Regions from separate parts of the Homo sapiens genome. Here regions 2, 3 and 4 are each reported to be linked to region 1. Evidence: microRNA targets listed by miRTarBase, many of them from high-throughput screens and not tested one by one. Region 1 holds a microRNA gene; each other region holds the end of a gene's coding sequence.
What was found. Region 1 holds the annotated microRNA hsa-miR-455-5p (UAUGUGCCUUUGGACUACAUCG, at 920-941, shown strand). A microRNA usually pairs through its seed, bases 2 to 8, with sites in the 3' UTR of a target mRNA and lowers its output. Matches are read on the target gene's strand: a 7mer-m8 pairs with bases 2 to 8, a 7mer-A1 pairs with bases 2 to 7 and ends in A, and an 8mer does both.

Region 2: miRTarBase lists FKBP9 as a target of hsa-miR-455-5p. The part of its 3' UTR that is shown has no 7-base or 8-base seed match.
Region 3: the mRNA of DRG1 is a reported target of hsa-miR-455-5p. The part of its 3' UTR that is shown has no 7-base or 8-base seed match.
Region 4: the mRNA of NUP54 is a reported target of hsa-miR-455-5p. Seed matches in the 3' UTR shown: 7mer-A1 at 816-822.

Annotation. Positions count from the first base shown.
Region 1 is chr9:114,208,530-114,211,637 of GRCh38, forward strand. It overlaps MIR455 (microRNA 455), which reads left to right and starts at 905; the gene lies at 905-1,000. COL27A1 (collagen type XXVII alpha 1 chain) reads left to right here. Exons shown (of 61, transcript NM_032888.4): 11 at 1,146-1,199; 12 at 2,453-2,497.
Region 2 is chr7:33,004,925-33,008,032 of GRCh38, forward strand. FKBP9 (FKBP prolyl isomerase 9) reads left to right here. Exons shown (of 10, transcript NM_007270.5): 10 at 251-2,004. The coding sequence ends at 427. Among named protein-coding and RNA genes, the nearest start is that of FKBP9, 49 kb to the left of the region's middle.
Region 3 is chr22:31,433,288-31,436,395 of GRCh38, forward strand. It overlaps DRG1 (developmentally regulated GTP binding protein 1), which reads left to right. Exons shown (of 9, transcript NM_004147.4): 9 at 585-1,165. The coding sequence ends at 684. Among named protein-coding and RNA genes, the nearest start is that of DRG1, 35 kb to the left of the region's middle.
Region 4 is chr4:76,112,696-76,115,803 of GRCh38, reverse strand. It overlaps NUP54 (nucleoporin 54), which reads left to right. Exons shown (of 12, transcript NM_017426.4): 12 at 310-1,140. The coding sequence ends at 438. ART3 (ADP-ribosyltransferase 3 (inactive)) reads right to left here. Exons shown (of 12, transcript NM_001130016.3): 12 at 3,018-3,108. Among named protein-coding and RNA genes, the nearest start is that of NUP54, 34 kb to the left of the region's middle.

The sequences.
Region 1 (3,108 bases):
ATGCAAAGCACTGGCAGCAGGCCTGGCCTATCATTCGTGCTCAATAAACATTAGCTTTTGTTAGAGTTATTATTAAATCATTCCACCAAGAGTGGCACGCAGATAGTGGTAGAAGCCCCGGGCGAGGTTACTGCCCTTTAGAAGTTCCCAGGCTAATGAGGACGTGAAGCATGAACACAAATAATGAAGATACAAGGGAGAAAGTGGAGAAGGATGCTACCGAGGTGCAAAAATGGCACTGGGGATGGGGGGGAGAGATTGCTTCCGGCTTGGGGTATCAGGGATGCTTGCCCAAGGAGAGCGCTTATGAGAGCTGGGCTTTGAAGGATTTGGCTCAGAAGTCATGAGGGATGGGAAGGACATGCCTGGTGGAGGGGACAGAGTGAGGAAAGGCTGGGAGGGAGGAAATGAGATGCATCCTAGGGAAGAGCCCCAGAATGGTGACGAGCCCCAGCTGTGGAGTCAGCTGGCCCTGGGTGACCCTTGAACTGATTAGGAATTCCCGAAGAGAATTCACAGCTCCACTACTGACTAGTCGTGTTGCTTTATCTACAGAGCCTCAGTTTCTTTGTCTGTCCAGTGTGGGTGGTGACAATCTGGGGGGTCCTTGTGAGAGTCTAATGTGGTAGCATGCATGTGCCTGGCACAATGTTGGCACTCCGGGTTCGCAGCCGCTGTTAGTTAATGCCAGCACTCAGGCGGCCAGAGGTGGATGTAAGCCCTACATCCAGGACCTTGAAGGCCTAGGAGGAGCCATGGCAGGAGCCACGGGCACCTACCAGCATCCCTGGGGGTGGGCAGGGCTTGGTGCCGTGCTAGCATCTAACCCAGCCGCGAGCTTCCTTCTGCAGGTCCTGGAGCCCTGGCGTGGGGCGGGCCTCCTGCCGGCGAGCGCCTGCGCCCTTCCCTGGCGTGAGGGTATGTGCCTTTGGACTACATCGTGGAAGCCAGCACCATGCAGTCCATGGGCATATACACTTGCCTCAAGGCCTATGTCATCGAGGAGCCACCGGAGCTGCCACTGCCACCAGGGAGGAAGAGGAGGAGCCGGGATGTGGGATGGCAGTGGTGGGTGGGCTGCGGCAGGTTGGGCCAGCCACACCTCACTGCTTGACCGCTCTGACCCCCTTTCTTCTCTTTCCTAGGGCTACATTGGGCTCCCAGGGCTCTTCGGCCTGCCAGGGTCTGATGGAGAACGAGTAAGTTTGCTTCTTTGGTTATTCACCATCCACAGCCACCCCTGCCCAAACAGAGCAGAACCTGCCAGGCACCAGCCTGGGGAAGTCAAGGAATTCCTCCTGGAGGAGGTGCACTTGAGTCGAGTAGGAGTCTGATAAGGGGACAAGTCAAGGCAGATGCATTCCAGGCATAGGGAACAGCATGTGCGAAGTCAGGGATTTACGGTAACTTGGCGAGTTTAACACTCAACACTGCCAAAGTGCTGCGTGAGAGGGTGAGAGTGGTGGGAGTTGAGGCTGGAGAGGACCCTGGGGCAATGTCTTAGGTGCCCAGGACTAAGGTTAGAAAAGGAACTCTGTTCTGAGGGTATGCGGAGCCTCTTGAGGACTTGCAACCAATGAACACCGGGCCCACTTTATAATATAGATCAGGGGTCTGCAAACGGTGGCCCATGGGCCAAATCCAGCCAGTTGTCTGTTTTTGCAAACAGTTTTATTGAACTCAGCCTTGCTCATTTGGTTACATATTGTCAATGCCGCTTTCTCACTACAATGGCAGAGTTGAGTAGGTGTGACAGAGACCGTATGGCCCACAGAGCCAAAGATATTCACTATCTGCCCCTTTCCAGAAACCATCTGCTGATTCCTCTTTTAGACAGATCAGTTGGTTTACTTGAGTAAAATGTGTTGGTTGGGGGTGGGGACAGCAAGAGCAGGTGGCAGGAGTTCCAGCAGCCAGGGGGAGCGGCTGTCTGGGGAAGGTGGTGGGACTGGTTTGGTGGTGGGCAGTGGGTGCTAAGATTTCCTAAGACACCCTGTCCTTCCAGACCAAGTATCTAAGTCAGAGGAGTCCAAAAGATGGTGTGGGAGCTTCTCACAGACCCCTGGCCCAGCCTGGAGGTCCATTAGAAGCCCCTGGGGTGGTGGCCTCGGGATCTTCCTCCCCGCCCCCTCCCAACCTGAGCCCGTATCTATGGGAACTCACTTGTAACCTCCATAAGCTGGGTATAGAGAACCTTAGGACAGCTGGAGCCTGAGCATTTATGAAGCACCTGCTGATTACAGGAACTGGCATTTCTCTGTCTCTTAGGTCACCACAGACCCCGACCCTGCCATCCGTCTGATGTGCATGTCACTGGGGCCGCCACGCAAGTGGCACACATTCCAGGCCCTCTGTGACTTCCTGCCGTGGGTGGCTCTGGGCTGGTTTGGGGCAAGCCTGGCTGTCCCTGCTGGCATCCTGCCCTGACCTCTCCCCTGTCTCTCCCCTGCAGGGCCTGCCTGGCGTTCCTGGCAAGAGGGGCAAGATGGGTATGCCGGTAAAGATTTTCCGTGTCTATTACGCAGACTCTAGCGGGGAACCCCACCTCCCACGGCCACGCTGCCCTGGCCACCTGCTGCCTGGCATCTTCTGCTTCTCCCCCTGCTTTGAGTGTGGGGGCCGCATGTGGGGTTGTCTGGCCACAGGACCTGCTGCTGGCACACGGCGTGACTGGGGCCTGGCTGGGGCTGGGGCTTCCATGGGCTCTGGACCCCTCTGGGGTAGCTCCTGTCTCCCTGTGGGCATCAGTGGCTCTCCAGTGCAGTTCTGTGTCTGGGGGCTTCTGTCTAAGGTATTTGTGTCTGTGGGTCTGCTGTGACCGGGGGACCTTGGCTAGACCAGGTGACTCTGCTCCCATCTCAGGGAACACTCAGTCTCCACATCGTCTTGGTGTCATCCGGCTCTGTCCAGTTTGCTCATGCACACGCAAAGCCAGAGGACAATGGGGTTTATGGGCAGTGCCCACAGCAGGCATGACCGAAAGAGGGGCTCAGCGGTGACCCCCAATTCACCAGCTTTCTCTATGGCTCCCCATCATGGGAGGAAATTGTTTTTCCCTTTGTTTGGACATGTGCAGAACATGGAGAAAGAGCCAAGGCACGGAGAGAT
Region 2 (3,108 bases), not on the chromosome of region 1:
TGCTGGGTATTGGCTACCTGAATAATAAGGGCTCTTGGAGTCATTTAGCACAAGGGTTTTTCACCTGCATTTAGAGAAAAAAAACAAAACACAGATCATAGGTCATATAGCTGCCAAAAAGATCTTGTCTGTGTTGGTAGCCCAGACTCAAGTTCCAGCCCTGTCACCCCCAGACTGCTCTGTTTCTGGCCCCAGGCCTGGCGTTCATGGCGGCTGAACTCATGGTCTTTCCTGTCCCCTTCTTTTCCAGTTCTCAGAGTACATTCACGCCCAGGTGGCATCTGGCAAAGGGAAACTCGCTCCTGGCTTTGATGCTGAGCTGATTGTGAAGAATATGTTCACCAACCAGGACCGGAATGGAGATGGGAAGGTCACAGCCGAGGAATTTAAACTCAAAGACCAGGAAGCCAAACACGATGAACTCTAAACCTGGCATGAACCAGATGGTGCCAGGGAGTACGTGACACCAAGCCACCTGTGTGGCAAGACGTGCAGTGAGGGTGCAAGGGTCTCTCAGAAGTTGCATCATTAGCCAGTAGTAGGTGGGTCACATAGTACCTGGTGTACACATCGGGGTGGGTTGATATATGGGGTGAGAAGTTTGGGCTGATCGCCAGTGATAGTAAACAAAATCTGTGCAGAGGGCCTTAGCATGGGATGTGTCCAGTATTGAAAAGGCTGCACTGCCAACCATGATTTGTGAGCCTTCTGGGAAATTTTGTTATTAAAGGAATATATAGTGTCAGACGGAAGTTATAATCATCTTGGAGGAACCATAAGAAAAGGTGTCCAGGGTATCTATATAAAGAGGGTTAAATTTTTTTTTAACTTGCTGGTTAAAACATTTTAGAAATATTCTAGAGATGGGCAGGAGAGTCAAAGGGCTTGCTTGCCCCAGCAGAGTTCCCAGCAGACAGCCATGGCTCTTCCCAGCAGCCTGTGCAAATTCTGATGATGGCCCCACCCCCGCACACGCACACGCACATCATGCTTTTCCAGCTCATCACACCCCGCCCCACTATGGGCCTACCATTAATAGTGTATAACTTGGAGGTTAAAAGAGCCTTTTGGACAGAAAACTGGGCCAGGAAAAGGCATCTCAGACCACAAATAGAGAATTTGATTCCTCATTTGCCACATAAGTCATCTGCTTAGCTTTTCCTTTCCTTTTTTTTTTTTTTTTTTTTTCTGGAGGCAGAGTCTCCCTTTGTCGCCAGGCTGGAGTGCAGTGGTGCCATCTCGGCTCACTGCAGCACTGTCTCGGCTCACTGCAGCCTCCGCCTCCCGTATTCAAGCGATTCTCCTGTCTCAGCCTCCTGAGTAGCTGGGACTACAGGTGTGCACCACCACGCCCGGCTAATTTTTGTATTTTTAGTAGAGACGGGGTTTCACTGTGTTGGCCAGGATGGTCTCAATCTCGACCTCGTGATCCGCCCACCTTGGCCTCCCAAAGTGTTGGGATTACAGGCGTGACTCACCATGCCCAGCCACTTAGTTTTTTCTTATTCCCACCTTTCTATCCCATAGAACACTCTTTTTTATCTTCCCTGAACCATATTGATGAGATAAATAGGGCTGGGGGCTGGGCCCCGCTGGTCACTCAACAGAGTATTTCCCTTGGCCGAGATGGAAGTTTTGTCCCAATAGATGAGCTGCTGAGCATCAACAAGGTGACATTTTTCTGCTGCCCATTTGTGTCCTGGAGACGGTGGTACCCTGAAGGCAGAGGCCAGCTGCCGCAAGACAGCAATGACAGTCCACCTGCCGACCTGATTCCTGCATCATGGAATAACCACATGGCTACCTTCTATCCTCTGTTCCCAAATGGTGGTGGCACTTATCCTGAAGTCGTCAATGATTTCCCTTTGAAACTACTTTATTTTACTAATTTAAACTATTTTGTACTGATGTAGCCCTGAGGTAGTTCATGAAAATGCTGTGCACTCATTCCATGGAATAAATGTTGGAAAGCTGATCTTTTCTGATATAAAATGTTGAATGATATTATCTGGTTTTCTGATATTTTATTGGAAGGCTGAAGACCTATGAGAATGCACCATGCAGTCAGAATCCCCTTGATGAAAACAGCAGGACTTCACTGCATTTACTGAGGGAGCGCACTCTACTTATAGGGAGTGTCAGTCAGGGTCCTGGCCCTCCTCTGGGACTCCTGAAGAGAAGCTAAGGAAAGGACTGTTTAGAGGGGTGTGGGCGAGGCTGGGGGAACTGAGGCTGTTGAGTGCCAGTGACAGCAGTGTTGGCCACCGCAGGAGGCTGCTACCACCAGGGCCTGAGAGCTCAAGAGGAGGCAGTGGGAGCAGCACAGGAAGGGCTACCTGGAGGCGTAACAGAGGGATGCAGCCAGCTGCATCTGACAGTGCGGCTGACACTGCAGCAGAGCGAGGGACAAACGCCCCATCCCCTCTGTGCCCCCATTCTCTGATGCCTGCCACTGGCTCCCATTAGTGGAACCATGTTGGAAGCCAGAGGGTAAGAGGAGCTCAGAGACTGGAGTTCTCAGAAGTCAGCCTCTTGAGTGCAGAGAAAGGTGGAGAATGAATCTGAGGTAGGGATGGGGTGGGTGGGAGCAAATGGAGAATTACTGGCACATGTATAGAGAAACTGTGTGTGTGTGTGGTGCAATTATATATTTAAAAGCAATTATTTTAATATATATTAATAAACATAAAATATATGTATTATATATACATAAAGTTGCTGTTAAAAAGCAAATGTTGGCCATGTGCAGTGGCTCATGTCTGTAATCCCAGCAGTTTGGGAGGCTGAGATGGGTGGATCATTTGAGGTTCAGGAGTTCAAGACCAGCCTGGCCAACATGGTGAAAACTCTTCTATACTAAAAATACAAAAAAAAAATTAGCCGGGCATGGTGATGGGCGCCTGTAATCCCAGCTGCTCAGGAGGCTGAGGCAGGAAAATTGCTTGAACCCAGGAGGCGGAGGCTGCAGTAAGCTGAGATGGCACCACTGCACTCCAGCCTGGGAGACAGAGCAAGACTATGTCTCAAAAAAAAAAATTTTTTTTTTTTTTGCTTCTTGCTAAGTTGAATTGGGCTTTGGAATGCATTTGACTTCATTAGCCTTACCCG
Region 3 (3,108 bases), not on the chromosome of region 1:
TTGAGGCGGAGTTTCGCTCGTTGCCCAACCTGGAGTGCAACGGCATGATCTTGGCTCACTGCAACCTCCGCCTCCCGGGTTCAAGCCATTCTTCTGCCTCAGCCTCCCGAGTAGTTGGGATTACAGGCACCCGCCACCATGCCCAGCTAATTTTTGTATTTTTAGTGGAGACGGGGTTTCACCATGTTGGCCAGGCTTTTCTTGAACGCCTGATCTCAGGTGATCCGCACCCTTCGGCCTCCCAAAGTGGTGGGATTACAGGCATGAGCCCCTGCGCCCGGCCCAGAGTATTTCTCTATAACAAATCCATGCTTTCTTTTAATTTTAAACTAGGCTCTTTATACTAAACATGTTTTTTGTCTTTGACTTTCTGCAATAAGAGGAACCACACAACTTCCAGAAGTCTTTACCGGCTTTTATGTTAAGGCTTCAGTGTCTCATGCTGCTAGGGAAGATAAAGCTTTTGTAGGTCTATGGTTCTTAAGGGTATGATACTAAATCTGAGCAGAAGGGTGGCATCCAGGCAAATAGGGCAGAAGCTAGGTTATTATTTACACTGACTGTTCTTTTTCCCTTCCATGCAGTGCTCTGGTCTGGGGTCTCTCTGTGAAACACAATCCTCAGAAAGTGGGTAAAGACCATACGTTGGAGGATGAGGATGTCATTCAAATTGTGAAGAAGTGAAACCTTTCCCTTTTCCCATCTGCCGGACGAACCACAACAGCGTTCCCCATGATCAAGCACCCTACCCCAGTTCTTTCTGGTTTTGGCAGTCACTGGATCAGGATCCAGGGGAGGGAGATGGAGGCACCCAAACTGGAACTTCATTTGTCTTACCTTGGTGTCACCTTGTATGTCGAACTGCATAAAAGATCTGGTAGGCTGGTCAGCTACATGCAGCTCATGTGTCATTGTCAGAATTTGTTTTGGGATGGGCTGAATGAGGAAGGGTATATACGGTGAAGCAGCTACAGAAGGGATCCTTGGGAACTTCATCTTGAGTGTGAAATGGATAAAAATATGACATGCTGCATCTTACTTGATGTTTACTTATGGGAACCCCTTCCAAACTAGATATGGCTTTCAGTCCTTTCAAGTAGTCTTTCCCACATGATACTGGAGAGAGGAAGGACTTTATGTAAGTTAATTGATCACTCCCCGCAAGGCTAACCTATTTTGGGAGATCATGTAATTAAGTACTCCGACCAGGCAGATCAGGGTTTGAAATTGCAGGTCCACCTCTAGTTAGCTGTGGAGCCCTGAACAAATTACCCAACCTTTATGAGCCTCAGTTTCCTCATGTAACATGGGGATAGTAATAGCACTTACTTTCTGCGGTGGTGATTGTTAGTAATGGAGGGAGATGGTACTTATATGTCAAATACTGTGCTAAGCAATTTGTAAGTACTCAATGACTCTTGGCTTTTGTTGCACCGAGCCTTTTACTGGGCTGTCTGCCCTATGCAGAGCACAGCTGTACATCATCAGTGTTGGGTTGAATGTTGAGCTGAACTATGTTGCCACCTGGGCCACTAAAATGCTTTTTTCTTTTTCTTTTTCTTTTTTTTTTTTTGAGATGGAGTTTCGCTCTTGCTGCCCAGGCTGGAGTGCAATGGCATGATCTCGGCTCACCGCAACCTCCGCCTCCCGGGTTCAAGCGATTCTCCTGTGTCAGCCTCCTGATTAGCTGGGATTACAGGCAGGTACCACCATGCCCCGCTAATTTTGTATTTTTAGTAGAGATGGGGTTTCTCCATGTTGGTCAGGCTGGTCTTGAATTCCTGACCTCAGGTGATCCGCCTGCCTCAGCCTCCCAGAGTGCTGGGATTACAGGTGTGAGCCACCGTGCCCGGCCAACTAAATGCCTTCTTTCCCATAACCCAGACTTTCTGCTTGAATCCCCATGAAAGTCCTGGCTTCAGCCAATAACTTGGGCGAAGGTGCATTGCAAGTGAGGCAACTGGTGTGATCAAAGCAGGTTTGTGTGTTCACATATGTGTATATATGGAGGTGGGCGGTTTAGGAGGAGGCTTGGTGTCAGGACTACTTGAGAGGATGCTAAGGACATAATCAGATATTTGGGGGACTAGGAATATAGGAATTTAAGGGGATTGCTCTGATTATGTGAAACTGGTTGATGAAAATCTTGGTGTGGTGGGTAACAATATGGACGGAGGGGGCTGGGCCCAGTAGCTCACACCTGTAATCCCAGCACTTTGGGAGGTCAAGGCAGGAAGATCGCCTGAGCTCAGGAGTTCGAGACCAGCCTGGACAACATAGCGAGGCCCAATCTCTACAAAAAAATTTAAAAAATTAGGTGGGCATGGTGGTGCATGCCTGCAGTCCCAGCTGTTCGGGAGGCTGAGGTGAGGACTGCTTGAGCCTGGGAGGTCCAGGCTGCAGTGAGCTAAGATGGGCCACTGCACTCCAGCCTGGGTGACAGAGTGAGACCCTGTCTCCAAGAAATAAAAATTAAATAATTAAAGAATATGGGCAGAAGGGAGGGTATGGACATGTAAGTATGGGGGAGAAATCTTAAACTTGTTAACTAACTTGCTCTTGGGAAGAAGTCAAACATTATTTCAGTATGGATGGAGTAGTCCCTGAGAAAATCAGGAAGAATAGGTTTGCAGCAAGACAGAATTTGATTATTTCTTCAAATGAGGCAAGCCAGAGCTTTTAGCAGGTCATGAGTGATCACAGTGTGGGATTATTCACATACTCAGCCTCTCTCCAGTGCTTGTTTCTCCTGCTGCCCTAATAGCAGTTGTTTCCCTTTGATAGTCTTCCTGGAGCTTGGGCTTGTCACTGTCCCCAGACCTGGAAGGTAAGCTCCTGAAGCCTGGTATGCTAGTTACTTTTCAGAATATCGGCCTTGATACCACTGGTGCATTCATGATAGAGGCCGTGGTCTAGAGCCTGCCCCAACCCTGCAGGGGAACAGGGAAACATTGGCTTTCTGAGCTACGGGATTTCCAGGAAGGTTTGTTCTCCAGCCAGAACATATTGGGTTTCTGGGGACTCTTCTTGCCAAAATTCACTTTCATTGAGCAAGCATTTAGCACTGCCAGAATGTTGGGGAGAGAAGGTTGCTGAAATCCAGTTCAT
Region 4 (3,108 bases), not on the chromosome of region 1:
TTTGAGTTCTGTTTTATTATCATGCCTTTATCAAAAGTTGGTAAAAGGAATAGCTATCTAAAAAACATTTTTGTTGGAAGATATTGTTCATTATATATTTGTTTGATTTTATTGTTCTTTAGAGTTTGTCTTTCACTGTTAGCAAAAGATGTAGTACAAATGTTTAAATATGCATGCCCTCTATATTTAGAGCACTTACTAGGTACTGTGTTGCTAGTAAAATAGTCAAAGTGGAGTCTTTTTTCCTGTGACTAGCTTGCAGTTTTAAGAAATTAATACATTAATATGTTGTTTCTTAATTTGTTCTAGCATTTGAAACAACAACAGGAAGGCCTTAGCCATTTGATTAGCATCATTAAAGACGATCTAGAAGATATAAAGCTGGTCGAACATGGATTGAATGAAACCATCCACATCAGAGGTGGTGTCTTTAGTTGACAGTTCACAAACTTGTGTAAAGGTTTGTGAAATGCATCTTCTTACTGCATCAGACCTTCCTTAAGAATGAAACCGACCACATGGAGGGAAAAAGAAAACAATTCTTTCTTGGATTGGTTTTTTGAGAAGTTTACTGACAAATTACTGTTCATCAAATCTGAAATAGTCACCTCACAGCTCTTCAAAGAAAACCTTTGAAAGATTTATATCTAAAAGCTGTATTTACTTTAAAAGAAGTGCATAATTACCAAAATTGTATGTACTATTGTACATTTTTACAACAGCATTTTCTTAAACATAATCTGTGTTTAATGATTATTGTCCATTGAGCCTGTACTCTGCTTTCCATACCAAGTAAATATGAAATAATCTACTTTGCACATAACAGAACAAACTATAATTACTTGGCTGTTGGAGATTTGTACTTGAGTATAAATGTACACCAGTTTTTGTATTTGTGAACTCATCTGTGGGAGGAGTAAAGAAAATCCAAAAGCATTTAATGTTTTGTTTTTGTTCTATAAAGATATGAAAATGTATTTTTATATTATTTTACTTATTTGGAATTTACAGAGCACACCTAAGCAATTAGGATATAACAAAACTACTTAACCATTTTTGCAACCATTTTGTTTTTTAAGCCTTTTTATTTCTAAAAAGATGAAAACTTATAAATAAATTCTTAATTTGTAATTACTTTTATATAATTCTGTCTGGTGCTTTATTTGGCTTTTGAGGAATGACCATTTTTTGTCCACATAGGTACTAAATTCATAATCACAAGTCAGGAATTTTAGTCTTAAGTCTTATTTTTGCCTCCTAGGGATTTTTGTCAGTGCTGTTATATTTTGATTAGGGTATGGCAAGTAAAACTTACTTCAGATATCATCTAGTATTAAGAATTCCCTAATATGTCATTAGTATTCGAAATACTAGAAAATCTGAGTTAAACAGATTAAGTAGTGTTAAATAGTGGGTCTTTAACCAGTGGATCATTTTAAACAGTATTTCTGACTACACTATATTTGGGCTGCATCATGTTGGCCGCTTTTGAGATGCTTTAACTTTGCACTTCTCTGTGATGCTTTGGCTTGTATTGACAGGTGTTAGAAGAAACAGGCCCATGAATCTTGCTATTGTATTTACTATGGGGATGGTGAAGAGTGTGATGCACTGTATATCTATCTGGAGTCCATCCTCTGAGAATCCACTGAAGAGATTTCTCCTCAGTTGTATAGGTTACAGTTGTGTAGACTAGGATTTTTTGTGGGTTTTTTTTTTTTTTTTTTTTTTTGAGACAAGTCTCTCTGTCACCCAGGCTGGGGTACAGTGGCACAATCACGACTCACTGCAGCCTTGACCTCCTGGGTTTAAGCAGTCCTCCCACCTCAGACTCTTGAGTAGCTGGGACTACAGGCATGCACCACCACAACTGGCTATTATTTTTTATTTTGTGTAGAGATGGGGTCTTGTTATGTTGCCCAGGCTGGTCTTGAACTCCTAGACTCCAGCAATCCTCCTACCTTGGCCTGCCAAAGTGCTAGGATTACAGGCCTGAACCTCCATGCCTGGCCAAGACTAGGAACTTTAAAACTGATTGTTTCTTTCCAAATTGACTGCCAGAAGTATGCAGCTACTTTTGCCAAGTTTATGGTGTGTAAATTTGTTACACTACTCTACTACCCTCTCATCATTCTTTCCTACCCATTATATTGCAATACCAACAGTGTTGGGACAGGAATTTCTTGCCTTGTCCACATTTTCTCCGTGGCCCAGAAGATCTGCATGTCCATCATTCTTACCCATGTAGCCAAGTATAGGAGTTTTTGTCCCTCTGCACACCCCCTTATAGTAGGAAGAGTTGTTGGTCTAATTGATGAGAATTGTTACTCACTGAGCTATATAATCTAGTGGATGGATCACTCATCATGCATACCATGGTCGCTTCTCTAGCCTTTGATTTTTCATGTTCTAATATTGCTGGTTGCTAGTTCAACCAGATAAATATACCAGACAGGGCCTAAGGTCAGCCTTTTAAAAAGGCAGGCCCAGTCATCCTGTTGGGTTTCTGTCCCACTGGTGACTGCATATATAAGGCAGGCCTGTGGTCCTTGAGCATATAACTGGTGAGATAACTAGACTCAGTTATCGAAGCAAGTGTTATAGACTGAGTAGTTTGTGTTCTCAAAAAATTCATCTTGAAATCCTAACACTCAATATGGTGATTTTAGGAGGTATGGCTTTTGGGAGGTCATGATGAGGGTGGAGCCTTCATGAATGGGATTAGTGCTCTATCTCTCTTGTCCCTTCTGCCATGTGAGATGGTGAGGAAAGGACAAGGAAGAGGACACTCACCAGAAACTAAGTCTGCTGGCACCTTGATCTTGGACTTCCCAGCCTCTGGAACTGTGAGAAATAAATAAATGTTGCTTACAAGTTACCTAGTCTACAGTGGTCTGTTACAGCAACCCAAACAGACTAAGACAAAGAGATGAGTAGACTATCCTTAAAGTTCTAATTCAGATATTAAATTGATGTTAAACACTAACAGTATTGAGCATACTGGCAATTCTGAAATATCTAATCAAAATCTTTTATTGAATTTAATCAGAAGTATACAGTTTTCGGGATTTTTTTCCATTGTAAGAGTAGTATACAAGTGAAAAGTTC